Homo sapiens: one gene and its partner. The protein of the gene in region 1 binds, or shares a complex with, the protein of each later gene. Each region holds a gene or a part of one and is shown in the gene's direction. Other genes may lie near its edges. The genes, in order: CRHR2 and GNA11.

The links.
Region 2: the proteins of CRHR2 (region 1) and GNA11 are in contact, whole or in part, in a cryo-EM structure (PDB 7TRY), measured with the Homo sapiens proteins. Residues at the interface, in NP_001874.2 of Homo sapiens: Arg148, Tyr208, Leu209, Ala212, Ile213, Thr216, Glu220, Lys293 (codon at 2,941), Lys307 (codon at 3,194), Ala311 (codon at 3,206), Phe358 (codon at 3,846), Tyr359 (codon at 3,849), Phe362 (codon at 3,858), Asn363 (codon at 3,861); in NP_002058.2 of Homo sapiens: Arg37, Ile348, Leu349, Asn352, Leu353, Glu355, Tyr356, Asn357, Leu358.

The regions. Positions count from the first base shown.
Region 1 is NC_000007.14:30,650,770-30,658,907, reverse strand, and holds the end of CRHR2 (corticotropin-releasing factor receptor 2), read left to right. Parts: exon of another isoform or gene 1-2,895; coding exon 2,896-2,981; exon of another isoform or gene 2,982-3,192; coding exon 3,193-3,328; exon of another isoform or gene 3,329-3,827; coding exon 3,828-3,869; exon of another isoform or gene 3,870-4,026; coding exon of another isoform or gene 4,027-4,044; exon of another isoform or gene 4,045-4,099; coding exon of another isoform or gene 4,100-4,168; exon of another isoform or gene 4,169-4,769; intron 4,770-5,307; coding exon 5,308-5,448; 3' UTR 5,449-6,966; downstream 6,967-8,138. UniProt on the Homo sapiens protein: G-protein coupled receptor for CRH (corticotropin-releasing factor), UCN (urocortin), UCN2 and UCN3. Has high affinity for UCN.
Region 2 is NC_000019.10:3,110,606-3,118,743, forward strand, and holds part of GNA11 (guanine nucleotide-binding protein subunit alpha-11), read left to right. Parts: intron 1-2,724; coding exon 2,725-2,879; intron 2,880-4,338; coding exon 4,339-4,467; intron 4,468-8,138. UniProt on the Homo sapiens protein: Guanine nucleotide-binding proteins (G proteins) function as transducers downstream of G protein-coupled receptors (GPCRs) in numerous signaling cascades.

The DNA.
Region 1 (8,138 bases):
CCATCCCTACACTCCCCAGCAGCTCACAGCTGCATTTCTGCTGCTAAGAGACACTCACTTATTTCTGGTTCTGAGAAGTGAATCAGGTGGTTGAATTTGCAGGAAGCCTGACTTCTTGCTGGTGTTGTCATTGTTGGTGTCATGGGAAAGGATTGGCAGTCACTAGGCCAGACACAGGTCTTAGTGGTCTCTGTGACTATTTCAGCCCATGCTGATCTTCTAAGGCAAGCTCTGTGGTTAGGCCCCTCGGGGGCAGACAAGGAAGCAGGAGCTCATGAGGTTAAGCAACTTACCCAAGGCCACACAACTGCAAATTGGAACAGTCAAAATTTGAGCCATGAGACTAGGACTTGGTGCTTCAGTTCATTTGGGAGGGGGGCCTCATCTTCAGTTCTTAGCCCATCTGCCATTTCTCCAGGTCTTTTTGACACCTTAGGAAAGATGTCATCTCCCCCACCCCCAACCCCTCCAGGCCCCCAGCTAGGCCACAAGCCCTCTGCAAGCAGGGGCTGTGACTGCCTGTCCACTTCGCCATCGCTGATGCCTGGCTCAGAGCCTGACACATGGTCCATTGATTCATTGAATGAATGAACAATTAAATAAAACCAGAAACAGGCTGAACGAGGGCAGGGTACAATAGACAGTTCTTACTAAAGAACTGGAGTGTGTTTTTAGCAGGGAGGTAGAGTCCAAGAATGGAAAGCCGGAGAGCTCAGTGTGGGCAGGGTGACCAGAAGGCTCCCTGGAGAGAGAGGAAGGTACCTGTGGTGGTGTGAAGGGGGAGGCTGGGAAACAGGCTCAAAGGAAAGAAGGATTTTCAGGTTACATAGACCCAAGCTGAGATGAGTGGGGCCACATAACTAAATGTCTGCCAAGTGTAAGGATGGAGACAAGGCCTTGGTTGCTAGGTAGATGAATGGATAGACGGATGGGCCAGTGGATGGGCAGATAAAAGAGTAGGTGGATAACTGAATGGATTGGTTATTGGGTAGGTAGATGGATGGGTAGATGGATGGGTACGTGGATGGATAGATAAAACAGTAGGTGGATAATTGAATGAATTGGTTGTTGGGTAGATGGATGGATGGATGGAAGGAAGGAAGGATGAATGGATGAATGGCTGGATGGATGGATGGATGGACGGATGGATAAAAGTAGGTGGGTAAATGAATGAACTGGTTGGTAGGTAAGTGGATAGATGGATAGATGAATAAAGTGGGTGGATAATTGAATTGATTAGTGGGTTGATGGATGTTGGAAGATTAATATTGAATTCAAGAAAATGTGGCAGAAATGAGAATATATTTTGATTCCAACAGTTTCTACTCTCAGGGAAGTCCGGAAGAATCAGAAAAGGTCAAATACTTTGTATTACTTGTATGAGAAAATTAGGATTCACTTATATGTTAAGGTGACTTGTGTCCCATGATCCAGGGGAATATGCCAGAGACCCAGGAGCTGGAAATTAGGTGAGCCCTAGGAGAAAGCTGGGGGTATCAGGTCATGGCAGCCCCGCTGAAGGCTTTCCATCCCCAGCCCTCCCTGGGACCCCCAGGCCATACCACTATGTGGTAAGAGAGCAGTAGACAGTGGCTGAGGTGGGGTGTGAGCTCTCCCTGCCCCTAGGGCTACCCGAAAGCTTGTGGGGAGCATCCAGAGGCTACAGGTTGACAGTCTCAGGATATCTGTCTGTATCCTGTGTCCCTCCTCTCCCAGCCAGGATTCAGAACTTGGGAGGGTTAGAAGGGCCCAGCCCAAGCTTAAGAAGCAATGGATTTTCTTGACAGAGTGTCAGAGGTGTGTGTGTGTGTGTGTGTGTGTGTGAGTGGGTGTGTGCACACGAGCCAGCAGACACCCCTGGGCTAACATGTGTCTCCCTCTGGCCCACGAGCACTTTGTCAGGAAACAGCCCCACTGTGTCAGGCCGACACACACTCCCTTGCCTGCCTGCCTGCCTATGCTCGGAGGCAGGTGAAGAGAAACGCAGATGTGCCCGGGCCCCAGATCCATGCTCACACATGCACACGCTCTGTGAGGCAAACACACTTGCACAAGTGCTTAAAGGATAGACCCACAGACCCACACTGCAGCTCCCAGGGGACAACACAGTCATAGTCACAGCCAATACAGATGAACAGACACTCGCAGGCCCATGGGGACCCACACCCAGCAGGGAGCAGCTGGGGAGCCACACAGGCCAGTTCCAGGGCCAGGTGCTGGGTGGGGAGGCTCTGGTGCTGAGGGAAAACTCAGAATGAAGATAAATGAGGCCCTTCCTGGGGCCTCAGAGCCAGCCCCACAGCCCATCCATCTTCCCTGTCTAGGGTGCCTACGAAGGCTCTGGAGTTCCTGGGCACAGGGGTGGGATGCTGGCAGATTAATCACTCATTCGGCAACTGAGTTCTTAATCCCTCCATCTGGCCTTGTCCGCCCCACCATGGCAGTGCTGTCCTCAGTCAGAAGGACCTCAGGCCGACCTAGAGCCAGTGACAGTGCAAGGGACTCAGAGAGCCCCGCAGTCAACAAGTAGGGACCCCGTGGCAGTGAGGGGAAGGGGGCTCCCATAGGGTCCCTATACTGGGGAGAGGGTTGGGGGCTTTCTCAGCCTCAGAGGGCATGCCCCGTGCTCTCGGTCACGACCCACAGAGGCTGCCACCTTTCCTCCTCAGTCCTGGGCTGGAGACACAGGCCCTGGAAAATGGGGCTGTCTCCCCATCCTGGCGAGGGAGGAGCACAGGCCTTGGGATGCTGGCAGGTGCTAGGGGGACAGGTAGGATAGGTGTGTGCGTGGGACATCGGTTTCCAGGGGTCTGCGGGGAAGGGGGCTGCCTCTCGGCTCATCTCAAACACGTGCTCCTTCCTTTTCCCTCTTTCCCATGCCCGCCCTCCCTCCAGATCAATTTCGTATTTCTGTTCAACATCGTCAGGATCCTAATGACAAAGTTACGCGCGTCCACCACATCCGAGACAATCCAGTACAGGTATGTGAGGGGGTCCCTTGACCCCACAATGGGGACAGGAGGAGGTCATCGGGCCGTCCCCCTGCTTCCTGGCAGAGCCCTCTGCCCCAGGCCTCACCCAGGGAGCTCGCTCAAGCTCCCGGAAGAAACACCACCACTGTCTCCCGCCGCCCACTGGGTGAGGCCCTGCCTGCCGCATGGGCTCAGACCTGTGTCCACCTCTCGCCCCCAGGAAGGCAGTGAAGGCCACCCTGGTGCTCCTGCCCCTCCTGGGCATCACCTACATGCTCTTCTTCGTCAATCCCGGGGAGGACGACCTGTCACAGATCATGTTCATCTATTTCAACTCCTTCCTGCAGTCGTTCCAGGTGGGGCCTGTGACCAGATGGGGGCCCCACAGTGAGCTTTCCTGAGGCTGCTCTGGCAGCCATGCCCTCACTAAGGGGGTCCCGTGGGACTGGCACACCCATGGCTCAGTTACATCCACAGAGTTAGAAGCCCGTACATGCTCAGCCTGAGCCTGGCCAGTTATCCCCATCCCAGCCTGGGTCTTCATCCTACCAGCCCGCACCTACTGTCCCAGCACCTGTTCTGAGGATGCAGGCAGCCCAACCAAATGCCCTGGGACAGGTCACACAATATTGAGGAGACCGGAGTCTGCCTGGCTCCAGGCCTGTGACCACTGCTCACTCAGAGTGGACCGTGGAATATCTGCACCCTGAGGCTAGGACCCCACCCAGCTCTGACTCCAGGGGTTCCTGGGTCAAATTGTCCCCCCCCCACCATCTTGTCCCCAGTGCCACCCCACCAGGCAGAACAGCTCCGCAGGTAGGTCACTGACCACTCCCTCCTTTCCCTCCTTTCCAGGGTTTCTTCGTGTCTGTCTTCTACTGCTTCTTCAATGGAGAGGTATGAAGCTGGGCCCTCGGGGTGGCCTGGGATATCCAGGTCCTCAGACCCCACTCCAGGGCAGCTCCATTGGTGCTGCCCGGCCTTGCTGGAGTGCCAGGGAGAGGAAGCCTTGAGATACCACCCGGCCTTAGGGGAACAGGAATCCTTCTCACAGGGGCTGGAGCCAGTTTAGAAGGTCAACTATGCAGCCCCGAAATAACATGCCAGCACCCCACATGTGCACTCAGAGCTGGGTGAGCAAGGAAGCCCAGGCCGCAGGGCCTCATGGAAGAGAGAAGCCAGAGCAGAGGTGGTGACAGAAGGAAGCTTCCAGAAAGAGATGTGTGCCAAGCAATCAGGTCTGTATGGACTCAGGGAGCAGAAGAGAGACCAGCACATTCCCCCGCTACCTGCCACAGAAAAGCCCACACACCAAGAGCAGGCTCTGGGGAGTCAGGCGGCCGTGAAGCTTGGCATGTGCAAGCCAATCATGAGGCCCAAAGCCCCAGTGCAGCTGACGCAGGGAAGAAGCGCACTCGTACCTGGGCTGGGGTGGATGAGGACATGGAGCAAAGAGCAGACACAGCCCCTAGGGCCTGGGAGCTTCCGAACACTCCAGAGGAATACACTTGCCTGTCTCTGCACAGGGCACTGGCGAGGTGTCTATGCAGGCCTGTGTCTCTGTGGATGATAGCACATTCCACTTGCAAAGTCCATCAGCAGAGACGGGTCCTGTGGGCTGGATGAGAAGAAGAGAGGGGGCCAGTAAGGCAAACAAACAAGGGATGTTTATGGAGCATTTATTCTGTTCGAACCATGTGCAAGCTAGGATGTGAGAGACACCATCCAATTTCCAAAAAAATTCAATTACCAAACAAATGAAGCTTAAATGGCACCGGGTAGAGCCAACTTTAGAAATGACCAAGACAGAGAGCTTTCCCTTTCAGGCAGTAAATGCCATGGTTAGTCAGGCAGGGGAGTCTAGCAGGAGGTAGAGAAGGTGGAGGGGTGCAGAGGGGACGGTCTTCAGGAGGGAGGAGGAGGCGCACCAGGTGTGTGAGCTGGGCGCACACCACCAACGCCCTGCAAGGAGCAGGGGCCCAAGAAGGCTGAGGGGGCCAAGTCTCCAAGCTGCGCTCTCTGGTCCCAAGATGCTAATTTTGAGGTGGCAGAGTGAGTCAGGGAAGGGAAGGCAGTGTGTCCAGAGGAAACTGGATGATCTGGGAGGACAGTGTGGAGTAAAGGAGGTGTGGAGTCAAGCTTCTCCAGGAAAAGGATAAGGAAGAGGCCCCTGGAGAGAGGCAACAGCATCAGGGAAGGACCTGTTTTGGAAGCAGACAGTTCCTTGTCATGAGGGTGGCAGTCGACCCATGAGAGCAGAAAGCAGAGGAGGGGATGGTCCCAGAAGCCCAGGGTTGGTCCCTGGGAGCCAGCTGAGCCTCTGCCTTCCCCACAGGTGCGCTCAGCCGTGAGGAAGAGGTGGCACCGCTGGCAGGACCATCACTCCCTTCGAGTCCCCATGGCCCGGGCCATGTCCATCCCTACATCACCCACACGGATCAGCTTCCACAGCATCAAGCAGACGGCCGCTGTGTGACCCCTCGGTCGCCCACCTGCACAGCTCCCCTGTCCTCCTCCACCTTCTTCCTCTGGGTTCTCTGTGCTGGGCAGGCTCTCGTGGGGCAGGAGATGGGAGGGGAGAGACCAGCTCTCCAGCCTGGCAGGAAAGAGGGGGTGCGGCAGCCAAGGGGGACTGCAAGGGACAGGGATGAGTGGGGGCCACCAGGCTCAGCGCAAGAGGAAGCAGAGGGAATTCACAGGACCCCCTGAGAAGAGCCAGTCAGATGTCTGCAGGCATTTGCCCATCCCAGCCTCTCTGGCCAGGGCCTTACTGGGCCCAGAGCAGAGAAGGACCTGTCCAACACACACAGCTATTTATAGTAGCAGACACAGGGCTCCCCTGCCCTACTCATGGAGCCAGCAGCCAGGCAATGGTGTGGCCCTGCACTGGCCCTTGGCCTCCACACTCAGTGGTGCCCCTGCAGTTGGGTGGGGTACGCCAGCAAAGGATCAGTTTGGCTGCCTTATCCCAGGGGCTGTCACCTAGAGAGGCTCACTTGTACCCCACCCTTGTTCCTGTGTCCCCTCCCCAGCCATCCTCCCGCCTTGGGGGCTCCATGAAGGATGCAGGCTTCCAGGCCTGGCTTCCTCTCTTGGGAGACCCCTTCTCTGCCTAGTCCACAGATTAGGCAATCAAGGAAGACGCCATCAGGGAAGCCACATCCTTAGTCAACCAGTTGCATCGTGCGGGGCAAAATGAGGAGCAGAGGCATGGAGGAGGGAGGCGTGGGATGGGAATAGCAGAAACCAACCATGTCTTCAGTGATTGAAACTCATACCCCATTGCCCTTTGCCCTCCAGTCTCCCCTTCAGAAACATCTCTGCTCTCTGTGAAATAAACCATGCCTCTTGGAAGTGGCCTCCCCTCAGGTCAAGTCACCCAGGCACCCGAAGAGTGGTGTGGGCCAAGGATCGTGGCTGGGTCTGAGGGGGCCACATCCATCTTCCTTAGTGGGCTCGGGCCCTGGCCTCGGGCCAGTTCTCTCTCTCTCTGACCTCTGGTAGGTTTGGAGTCTTTATGGTCAAAGCACCTGCAGGCGGGTCTGTCCCTTATCACTCCAACCAGGCTAATACCTGGCCCCAGCCCCCAACCAAGGGCAGCTTGATTCAGCCTGGAGGAGGTGTGCAGCTCATCCAGCAAGCCAGGGCCTGTCCCAAAGGCCAAGGCTCTGGAATCTGGTGGGCAGGGTAGACATGGCCCCTCAGTTGACCACCAGGGCAGCTTCCAGGCTTGGCTTCCGTCCCTGTGTCCCTGCAGCGGAGCCGCAGGAGTCAGGGAGAGAGAAGCATCAGGCCATTTCTTCCAAAAGAAACCAATGCTCTAGGTACCCCCTACAAAAATAAGTTTTGAAAAATCATGTATCCCGTCTTGCACATTTTTAAGTTGACATGTAGTATTTTTTACTTAAGTTTTAAATCCTTCAAAGGTGTGATTTCTGCCATTTTGTAAATATTTACATTTTTAAATAAAACTGCTGCAACAATTTAAAATACATCAAATGAATTCTGATCACCATGGTGATTTAACACCCACCCTCATCTATTTTAAAAACACCTGACCCAGCTCTCCTTCTTCTTCTTTTTTTTTTTTTTTTTTTTGAGACAGGGTCTCACTCTGTCATCCAGGCTAGGGTGCAGTGGCAAGATCTCAGTTCACTGCAACCTCCACTTCCCAGGCTCAGGTGATCTTCCCAACCCAGCCTCCCGAATAGCTGGGACTACAGGCACGCACCACCATGCTGGGCTAATTTTTGTATTTTTTTGTAGAGACAGGGTCTGGTCATGTTGCTCAGGCTGGCCAGCTCCGCTTTAATTGTGGGAAATGTTACATTGTTTCTTTCCTCTTTAATGTGTAGCTTCATTCCATTGCCCTATAGAATTTTATACTAATGCATTACTTTTATGGCTGAAAGTGTTTTATTGCTCACTTTGTCATACTTCTCTGCCACACAATATATGTATGAATGAAAATTAAAATATTTCATTTTCTATGACCAAAGTTTCAAGGGATTTTAAAATAATCTTCTGGGTTGAATTATTACAATTATTTTTTGATACAAAATACAGTAAGCCACTGATTAAAACAACATAGATACCTAAAGTTTTTATAAGTAACTAGTTAAACCTAAAAAGGAAAATGTATTGAAAACACAGCTTAATGAAATGGATAGGAAGTTAATGGCTCATGAATCTACAGGTGAATATTTATTGCTAGAATAAATCAGGACTCAGCATCAATTCTTTTCTTTTTTAATGTTTTATTGTTTATAGTGGGGTGTGCTGAGAAGCCTTTTCAATTCAGTAGATGATCTGGCACTCCAGATAGTCAATTCTCTATACTCTTGCTGAGATGTACAGTCAAAACTGCATAGTGATCTGTCACCAAAAATGACCTATCAGCTGGCTGTTTAATTAAGTGTCCTTTCAATTTGGCTGAAAAAGATGAACTGAACGTTATCTGACTTGCAGTAGGCTTTGGGCGCCCATGTCATCAGCTCATTCCATTTTTCACCACCAGCTGTGTGGGAATGCACTGCAGGTTAAGTGTGAGCCCTGCTTCTCTTGTCAAGAGGGCAGGGAGGTTGGGGCACCCTGATTTTATTTTCTCAAGTGACAGAACTCAGAACTCAGGGTATCTTAGAAAGTCTTACTGCATACCCAGTGGCA
Region 2 (8,138 bases), on another chromosome or scaffold:
GCTGAGGCCCTGGGGAAGCTGAGGCCCTGTGAGGTGAGCCACTCGCCCAGGTCGCCTTGGGAGTAAGCAGCGTGAGCTCCTGGTTCCGGCCCCTTCCCCAGGCTGAGCAGCCTACCAGGCACCTCGTTTCGGCCCTGACACTCACCCATGGGGCTGTACTTCTCACCTTCTCACACTGTTTTTTTGTTTTGTTTTGTTTTGTTTTGTTTTGAAAACAGGGTCTCGCTCTGTCGCCCAGGCTGGAGTGCAGTGGAATGGTCAAGGCTCATCACAGCCTGGACCTTCTGGGCTCAGGTGATCCCACCACAGCCTCCCGGGTAGCTGGGACTGCAGGTGCATCACCACGCCTAGCTAATTTTTGTATTTTTTGTAGAGATGGAATTTCACCATGTTGCCCAGGCTGGTCTTGAACTCCTGGGCTCAAGCAGTCCTCCCGCTTTGGCCTCCCAAAGTGCTGGGATTACAGGTATGAGCCACCATGCCTGGCCTCCGCCCTGGTTTTTTTTCTTTTTTTTTTGATAAAGTAGAGGTCATTTGATGCCCTGTTTTTAAATCACAGCTTTATTGAGTTATAATTCACATTCTATGCACTTCACTTGCTTAAAGTGTATAATTTGGTGGTTTTCGATATGTTTGCATAGTCGTGCAGCCATCACCGCTGTCGGATTCCAGATTTCATTTTCTCAAAGGAAGCCCCTTCCCCATCGGCCGTCACTCCCACCCCCTCCTCCAGCCCCGGCACCCACACATCCCCTTCCTGCCTCTGTGGATCGGTCTGTCCTGAACATTTCATAGAAATGGGATTGCACGCCATGTGGCCTTTTGTGTCCGGCGTCTCTCACTGAGTGTGACGTCCTCAAGGTGCATCCACACAGTGGCCTGTGTCAGAGCCTCGTCCCTGTTCATGGCTGAGTCATGTTCCAGTGCATGGAGGGACCGCGTATTTGCCCATTTATCCCCTGGAGGACATTTGAGTGCCTTCATGTGTGGGCTGTTGGGAACGGAGCTGCCGTGACCGTCTGTGGACGTGTGTTTATGTGGATGATGTGTTCCCTTCCCTCAGTTGCATGCTACGCCTGGGAGCAGAATTGCTGGGTCCCAGGGTGACTCTGGCTTTGCCCTCTGAGAAGCGTCCAGAGAGTTTGCCCCAGTGGCCGCCCTATGGGGCAGGCCCAGCAGCCGTGCAGCCGTGGCTCCTGCCAGTGGCCTCCCTGGGGCCTTTCAGCTGAGGGGCCATTGATCCCGCTTTCGTAGCCCTGCTTTCAGGGGTAGGGCTCTTGCCCTTAGATCTTGGTTTGCCACTTGCCCTGTCTCCCGCTGTGATCTCTTCCAGCTGTGGCCCTCTCTGAGAGTCCATATTCATATTTGGGCTTAGATCTCCATCAGCTTCTGAAACACGCATCTGCAAACTGCAGACTGATTTTGTCGATAAAGTTTTATTGGCACATACCCATTTCTGCCATGTTGCCCATGGTGCTTCAGCAGCAGCAGCAGAGCCGAGTGCTGGAGACAGTCCGTGTGGTCGGGAAGGCTGGGTGTGCTCTCTGGCTCTCTGCAGAAGCAGATTGCTGCTGTCTAATCTGGAAGTTTCCAGGGAGTGGGATTTTTGGGGTTTGTGTCTCTTTTTCCAAGTCCCCCTAGGTGTGCTTATCCCAGCCCAGATTGAGAGGCTGGGGGCAGGGCAAGGGGAGGGCTGAAGTCGGAGTCCGGGGCAGGGAGCGTTGCTCAGAGGGGACAAGCAAGGGCTGAGTCTCCACTCTGGGGGGCCTGGGAGGGCCCCGTGGCTCCCAGAGCCCAGGGCAAGGCTCCCTTCTTTCCCATCTGGGTCCCACCCAGTATGTCCCCTCCCCAGTCCCTCAGCCAAACTGTGGCTGGTCATGTCGGCCTGTGCGCCCCGGGGACGGGGACACAGAGCATCAGGAGGGGAAAGGATGGCCCCCCCACAGTGTCTGCCCCAAAGGGTGTTCACATGTGTGTGCAAGCACGTGTCTGTGCGGTTGGCCTTCCTTTGTGACAGGGCAGCAAGCTGGGGCCTGATGCCACCCGCCGCCCAGGGTTCCGTGAGGGGGAGGCGGCTCGTGTTGGGGCACCATGTAAACTGTTGAGTGCGGCAGCTCGGGGGCCACACGCCGTCCTTAGCACCGGGTGTGGTATCTGCTCTTGATGATGTTTGATAAGCATTTTTCGGACGAAAGAGAGAAGCCGGCGGGGCAGAAACCGAGTCTGGAGCTGCACACTGCAGGCGATGCCGCTGGTTGCAACGTCCTGTGACTGGGCTTCCTGCCTCCCGGTGTGTCTGGAGAATTCGAGGCAGCGAGTGCTGGGGCTGTTGGTTAGTTCTGTCGTCGTGCTTGGTCGTGCTCGGCGCTGCACTGCCCTCCTGTGGGTCCTGGGTTTGAAGTGTGTGTGTTCTACACGTGCTTGTTCCCCACACCGTCCCCTCCCCACCTCTAAGAAGTGAATCGAAGCCCGGCCTCCCCGGCACCCTGCAGACCGCACCGCCGGGAGGCTTTGCTTGTGGGGCCTTGTTCGGAGGAACCACACCGCCAGGCGGCCTCGCGTTTTTCTGACACGTGTTCACACGGAACTGTCAGTGGTCCTGACTGCACAGCCTGCGGAATGCCGCCCGGGCCAGCCGAGGCCTGGAAGAGGGGCCGTCACAAGCTTTCTGGTGGATGTGTGGCCCCAGCGAGCTCTCGACGTCTCCCCTGCCCGCCCTCGCAGGCCAATGCGCTCCTGATCCGGGAGGTGGACGTGGAGAAGGTGACCACCTTCGAGCATCAGTACGTCAGTGCCATCAAGACCCTGTGGGAGGACCCGGGCATCCAGGAATGCTACGACCGCAGGCGCGAGTACCAGCTCTCCGACTCTGCCAAGTAGTAAGTGCGGCCGCACCGCTGGCGGCCTGGGGACGGCAGCTGCGGGCCGGTGCCTGGGACCCTTCGGGAAGGCCTCCGCGGCGTCTGTGGTGCCCCCTGCCTGCTCGCCGGGGGCAGGGATGCGGTGGGCCCGGGCCACCTGGCCGGATGGAGGGACCAGAGCAGATCCCTGGAGGGGCCACGCCTTGGCAGGAGCCGGTGGACTCTGGTGTGACACTGGCCTGCTTGTATGCCTGGCCCTGCCGCTGCCCTCCCTGGGTCAGGAGTGAGCTCCTGGCCACCCTCGGTGCTGGAGCCCGGCCTGTGGCCTGTGGGGGAAACCCAGGGTCTCCTAGGAGGGCCGTGGGATGGGAGGTAGACACAACCTGGGCCGTCTCGCTCCTGCCTGGGACATCGTCCCCAGAGCCACGTCTCCCACTAGTGACTGGCTGTGACCTTGACTGATGTCAGGGTTCTCCCAGTCTCTGGGCCTGGGATAGGGGGTGACTTGTGTGCTGACAGGTGGCCGGGCCATGGCCGCAGGTGGAGGCCCCCGCGTGGCAGGCTGTGCACTGCTGCCCTCCATGCTTGGCAGGCAGAGGCCCCGGCCCTCCCCCAGCACCGGGAGAGACCCTAAGGCGACAGGGACAGGCCTGTCCCCCGCCCCTCCTGCCCGTCCTCTGTGTGTTCCCTGCCTCTGGGAGGTTGTGGGAGGGCCCAGATAACCAAGCACTTGGAACAAAACGCCAGGGCCTCCTCGCGGTGCCGGAAAGGTCTGAGCAGGCACCCGGCCTCTTACAACCCCCACCCCAGGCAGACCACTCGAGGGGCGCCCCACTCAGGACTGCCCAGGGCGTCAAAAACGGGAAACTGTCCCAACCCAGAGGGCTGGGCAGGAAAAGGCATGAGGGGAACCAAGGAAGCCGGAATCAAGCGTGGACTTCAGTAGCTGCGCTGTGTAGACACTGGCTCATTGCTCGTGGTGGGTGCCGCACCCACGTACAGGGAGCAGCAGGGAGACGGGCACGGGGATCTGCTGGGACCTCTGCAGCCTCTGCAGCTGCGACTCTCCTAATGATGCGCTTGTTTGTGAAGCCTCATCCCTGGGGCCAGCCAGGCCTCTCTCGGGAAGTCCCCTGCCCTGGGTCACCGTCTCCCTCCTTGGTGGCCGTCTCTGGACAGCTCTACTACAAACCCCCCGAACCAGCTGGAGTCCTCGTCCTGGGACTTTCTCTTGTGCTGGGTCATTTCTGTCCCCTGAGACCCCAGAGAGGATAGAGGTTGGGAGGCTCGTATCCCGACCCCAGGGTCTCCATTGGCCCGAGCCCTCCGGGCTGCTTCAGACACTGCCGTAGGTGGCGCAGTGCGCGGTCCACCCCCTCCTGGTGGCTTTCCGTCCTCCCGCTGGTTTGGGTGCTGTGTCCCTGTCCTGCCCCCCCACCCCCGGCAGCCGGCCTGAGCACCCACCGCTGTGTTGCAGCTACCTGACCGACGTTGACCGCATCGCCACCTTGGGCTACCTGCCCACCCAGCAGGACGTGCTGCGGGTCCGCGTGCCCACCACCGGCATCATCGAGTACCCTTTCGACCTGGAGAACATCATCTTCCGGTACCGCCCGGGCCACAGCAGGCGGGGAGGGGGCACTGAGAGGCTCATTTGCCCGGTGTGCCGGCTCATGCCTGCGCACCCAGTGCTTTGGGAGGCCAAGGCGGGAGGATCGCCTGAGTCCAGGAGTTTGAGACCACCCTGGGCAACATAGCCAGACCTCATATCTAAAAAAAATTTTAAAAATTAGCTGGGCGTGGTTGTGTGCACCTGTGGTCCCAGCTACTCAGGAGGCTGAGGCAGGAGGATCGCTCAAGCCCAGGAGGTTGAGGCTGAAGTGAGCCATGATGGCACCACTGGACTCCAGCCTGGGCGACAGAGGGAGACCCTGTTTCGTCTTATTAAACAAAAGAAAGCCCATTGGTCTTCATCCTCAGTGTGTGTTTGACCAGGTCAGGGGATAAGATTTATCTCTAAGTATGTGTGAGCCAGGGCCACACAGGGAAGGAGCTGTGGGGGTGTGGGGGGCGTGGCCACATCCATCCAGACCGGCAGCCGAAGAGACCTGGCAGGGAGGACATTTGACAGGGCCTCCAGGACGGGCCGGGGGCCTGGTTGGAGCCAGCATGGGGCTGGGGTCTGGAGTGCTGGCCGGAGCAGGGGGTGCCGCATGGTGCGGGAGGGGTCATAGGGACTGAGGCTGCCAGGGGAGGGGGCTCATGGGGACCGAGGCTGTGAGGGGAGGAGGGGTCATAGGGACCGAGGCTGTGAGGGGAGGGGGGGGGTCACGGGGACCGAGGCTGTGAGTGGAGGAGGGGTCATAGGGACTGAGTGGGGAGGAGGGGTCATAGGGACTGAGGCTGTGAGGGGAGGAGGGGTCATAGGGGCCGAGGCTGTCAGGGAAGAGGGGTCATGGGGACCGAGGCTGTGAGGGGAGGAGGGGTCGTGGGGACCGAGGCTTTGAGGGGAGGAGGGGTCATAGGGACTGAGTGGGGAGGAGGGCTCCAGGCTGGGGTGGAGGAGCTGGGTGGTGTGGGGTGGATTCTGTTCTTCACGGGCTGCCCCTGCGGATCCTGCTGGGCCTCCGGGGCTCCAGGTCCACTGTGGCTGGGGGCCGGCCAGCAGAGCCGGGTTCTCCCTGGGGACCCTCAGTGGGTCCTGTGTCTGGTAGGCTGCTCAGCTGGCTGGACTCTGCTGTCCCTGGGAACGTGGACCCTGCCTGCCTGTCTCCTGGCCCCATATAACATCTCCAGCGCTGAGGTCCCGGCTTTATGCGTGCCTGTCCTGGGCTGCTGGTGTCGGGCGTGAGACTCCCACCGCAGGCCTTATTCCCGCCCAGTGCTGGAGGCCAGAAGGCTGAGATGCAGGTGTGGGCCGGGCCAGGTCCTTCTGAGGCTGAGGGGATCTGCCCAGGCCTCACTCGGCTCCTAGTGGCGGCCGCATCCTTGGCATCCTTGGCATCCTTGGCATCCTTGGCTTGTGGCCGGGTTGCCTCATCCCTGCCCCCATCCTCATGCAGCGTCCTCCCCGCCTGCGCCTTTGCCTCTGTTCTCTTATAACCTGTCCTTGGCCAGGGCCACCCTACCTCTGTGTGACGTTATCCTAACCAGTGACATCCGCACAGACCCTGTTTCCAGATCAGAGCCGTCCCCGGGTTCTGGTGTTCGTGCGTGTGGGGCGCTAGACGGCTCTGTCCTGGAGGGCCTCGCGGTGGCTCCGGTTGCGGGTGCCTTCTCCTGCAGTGCAAGCTCGCCCTGGCACTGGCCCTCATGAGGGAATGACGCCTCCCTGCCAGGGTGTCCCCACCCAGCTGGTGCACTGCCGAGGCCATTGTGAGGGTTCCGGGAAGTCTGTGGGGTTTTCCTCGAGAGCCCTGCCTTGAGACCCACCCCAGGGCTGGGGGTGCCACCCCCTGCCATCTGCCTGTTCTCCCCACCCGTCCTCCCAGCTCGGCCTCCCAGCGCAGGCAGGGAGGATGCGGCGTGAAGATGGAGGCAGGGATGGAGCAATGTGGCCACAAGCCAAGGAATGCCAAGCTCTGGGATGGTTCCCGGGGACCCGAGCAGGCGCTGGGCCCTCAGAAGCTGCGGTGTCCTCTCTGGACATGGGCGATGGTGTATATTGTTACGAGAATTCAAGTTTTTCTTCTTTTTTATTCACACGGGGCCCATGACCCCAGGATACAGCTGAGGCGAGCCAGGCATAGGCCAGGTTGTGGCATGAATGTCCCCTCACAGCCCCACGCTGGCCTCTTAACAGCGCAGGCCTCTGTGTCCTCTGTCAGAAATGTCCTGTCCCCTCCCTGAGCTGAGCTCAGGCTGGGTGTGTCACCCCCTCTCCACCATCTTCCAGGCCCTTCCCAGCTCCAGCTGTGCCCTTTTCTTTTTTTTGAGACGGAGTCTTGCTCTGTCGCCCAGGCTGGAGTGCAGCTGTGCAATCTGGGCTCACTGCAAGCTCCGCCTCCCGGGTTCACGCCATTCTCCTGCCTCAGCCTCCCGAGTAGCTGGGACTATAGACGCCCGCCACCACGCCTGGCTAATTTTTTGTACTTTTTAGTAGAGATGTGGTTTCACCATGTTAGCCAGGATGGTCTCGACCTCCTGACCTCGTGATCCGCCTGCCTCGGCCTCCCAAAGTGCTGGGATTACAGGCGTGAGCCACCGCGCCCGGCCCGGCTGTGCCCTCTGTGCCGGGTGCAGACCCCCGTCCTGAGCCTACTCCTCTGCCACCATTGTTTCTCTGCCAGCCGCCTCTGTCCACCACACGCTGGCAGAGGGCCGGCCAGGTGCTGTGGGATGCAGCTGGAGGCCTTGAAGGCCGGTGGGATCGTCCCAGTGCGTGAGGAGAGGCTCCTGCTCCCTCAGGTGGGGACAAGACACGGGGGGACCCGGATCCCAGCCCTGCCGGCCGCCGCAGGCGTGCAGGAGAGGCCTCGCGCTCCAGACGGGCTGTGGCCTGGTGTCGGCACACCCACTGTCCTCCCGCCTGGCCACAGCTGCTGGTGCGGGCCCTCTTGTCCCTTAGAGTCACCTGGCACATCTGTCATCCACCGGTGCCTGCTGGACTCCCCCGCAGACCAGACCAGGTGGATTTCACCACTCACATGCCCAAAGCAGCCCCGCTCTCCTCGGCAGAGTTGCAGGGACCCCGGCCTTCCCTGGGGCCTGGGGCCAGGGCCTGAGGGGCACTCTCCGCTTCTGCCTTTGTATTCTTTCAAGGAGACCAAAGTGCCTTTTCTCGTTATAGAAAACTTAGAAAAGTCACAAGTAGAAAGAGGCAAACGTCCCGTAAGGAACGCACGCCCGCAGACATCGTCTGAGCTGATTTTCTTTCTCCCGCCTGTGCGTGGCCTGAGAGTGTGAGGTTGAGCTGCTCACCACGCGGGGCAGGGCGCTGCGCCTGCTCTTCTGCCCCAGGAGGATACCGGCAACTCTGCCCTCTGCAGCCGTCACTGGAGGGTCCCTGCAGGGAGCAACTGTGGCATCAGTGTTTACTCCTGCGAGTGACGCTTGGTGAACATCTGTGTCCCTGGCCCAGTGAGGGGAAAGGCTTCTGTGCTCAGGGTGACATCCAGATGCCAGATGTAGGGTCCCTGGGCACCCATCGCAGGTTCCCGCAGCAGCTGGCGCCCAGAATCCTCTGGGTTCTCACACCCCCACACTAGCGCCCGCTTCCCTGGGCCCAGTGGTCTCAGGCCCCTTTGCCAGTGAGGGAAGGGTCTGCGGTGGTCACCC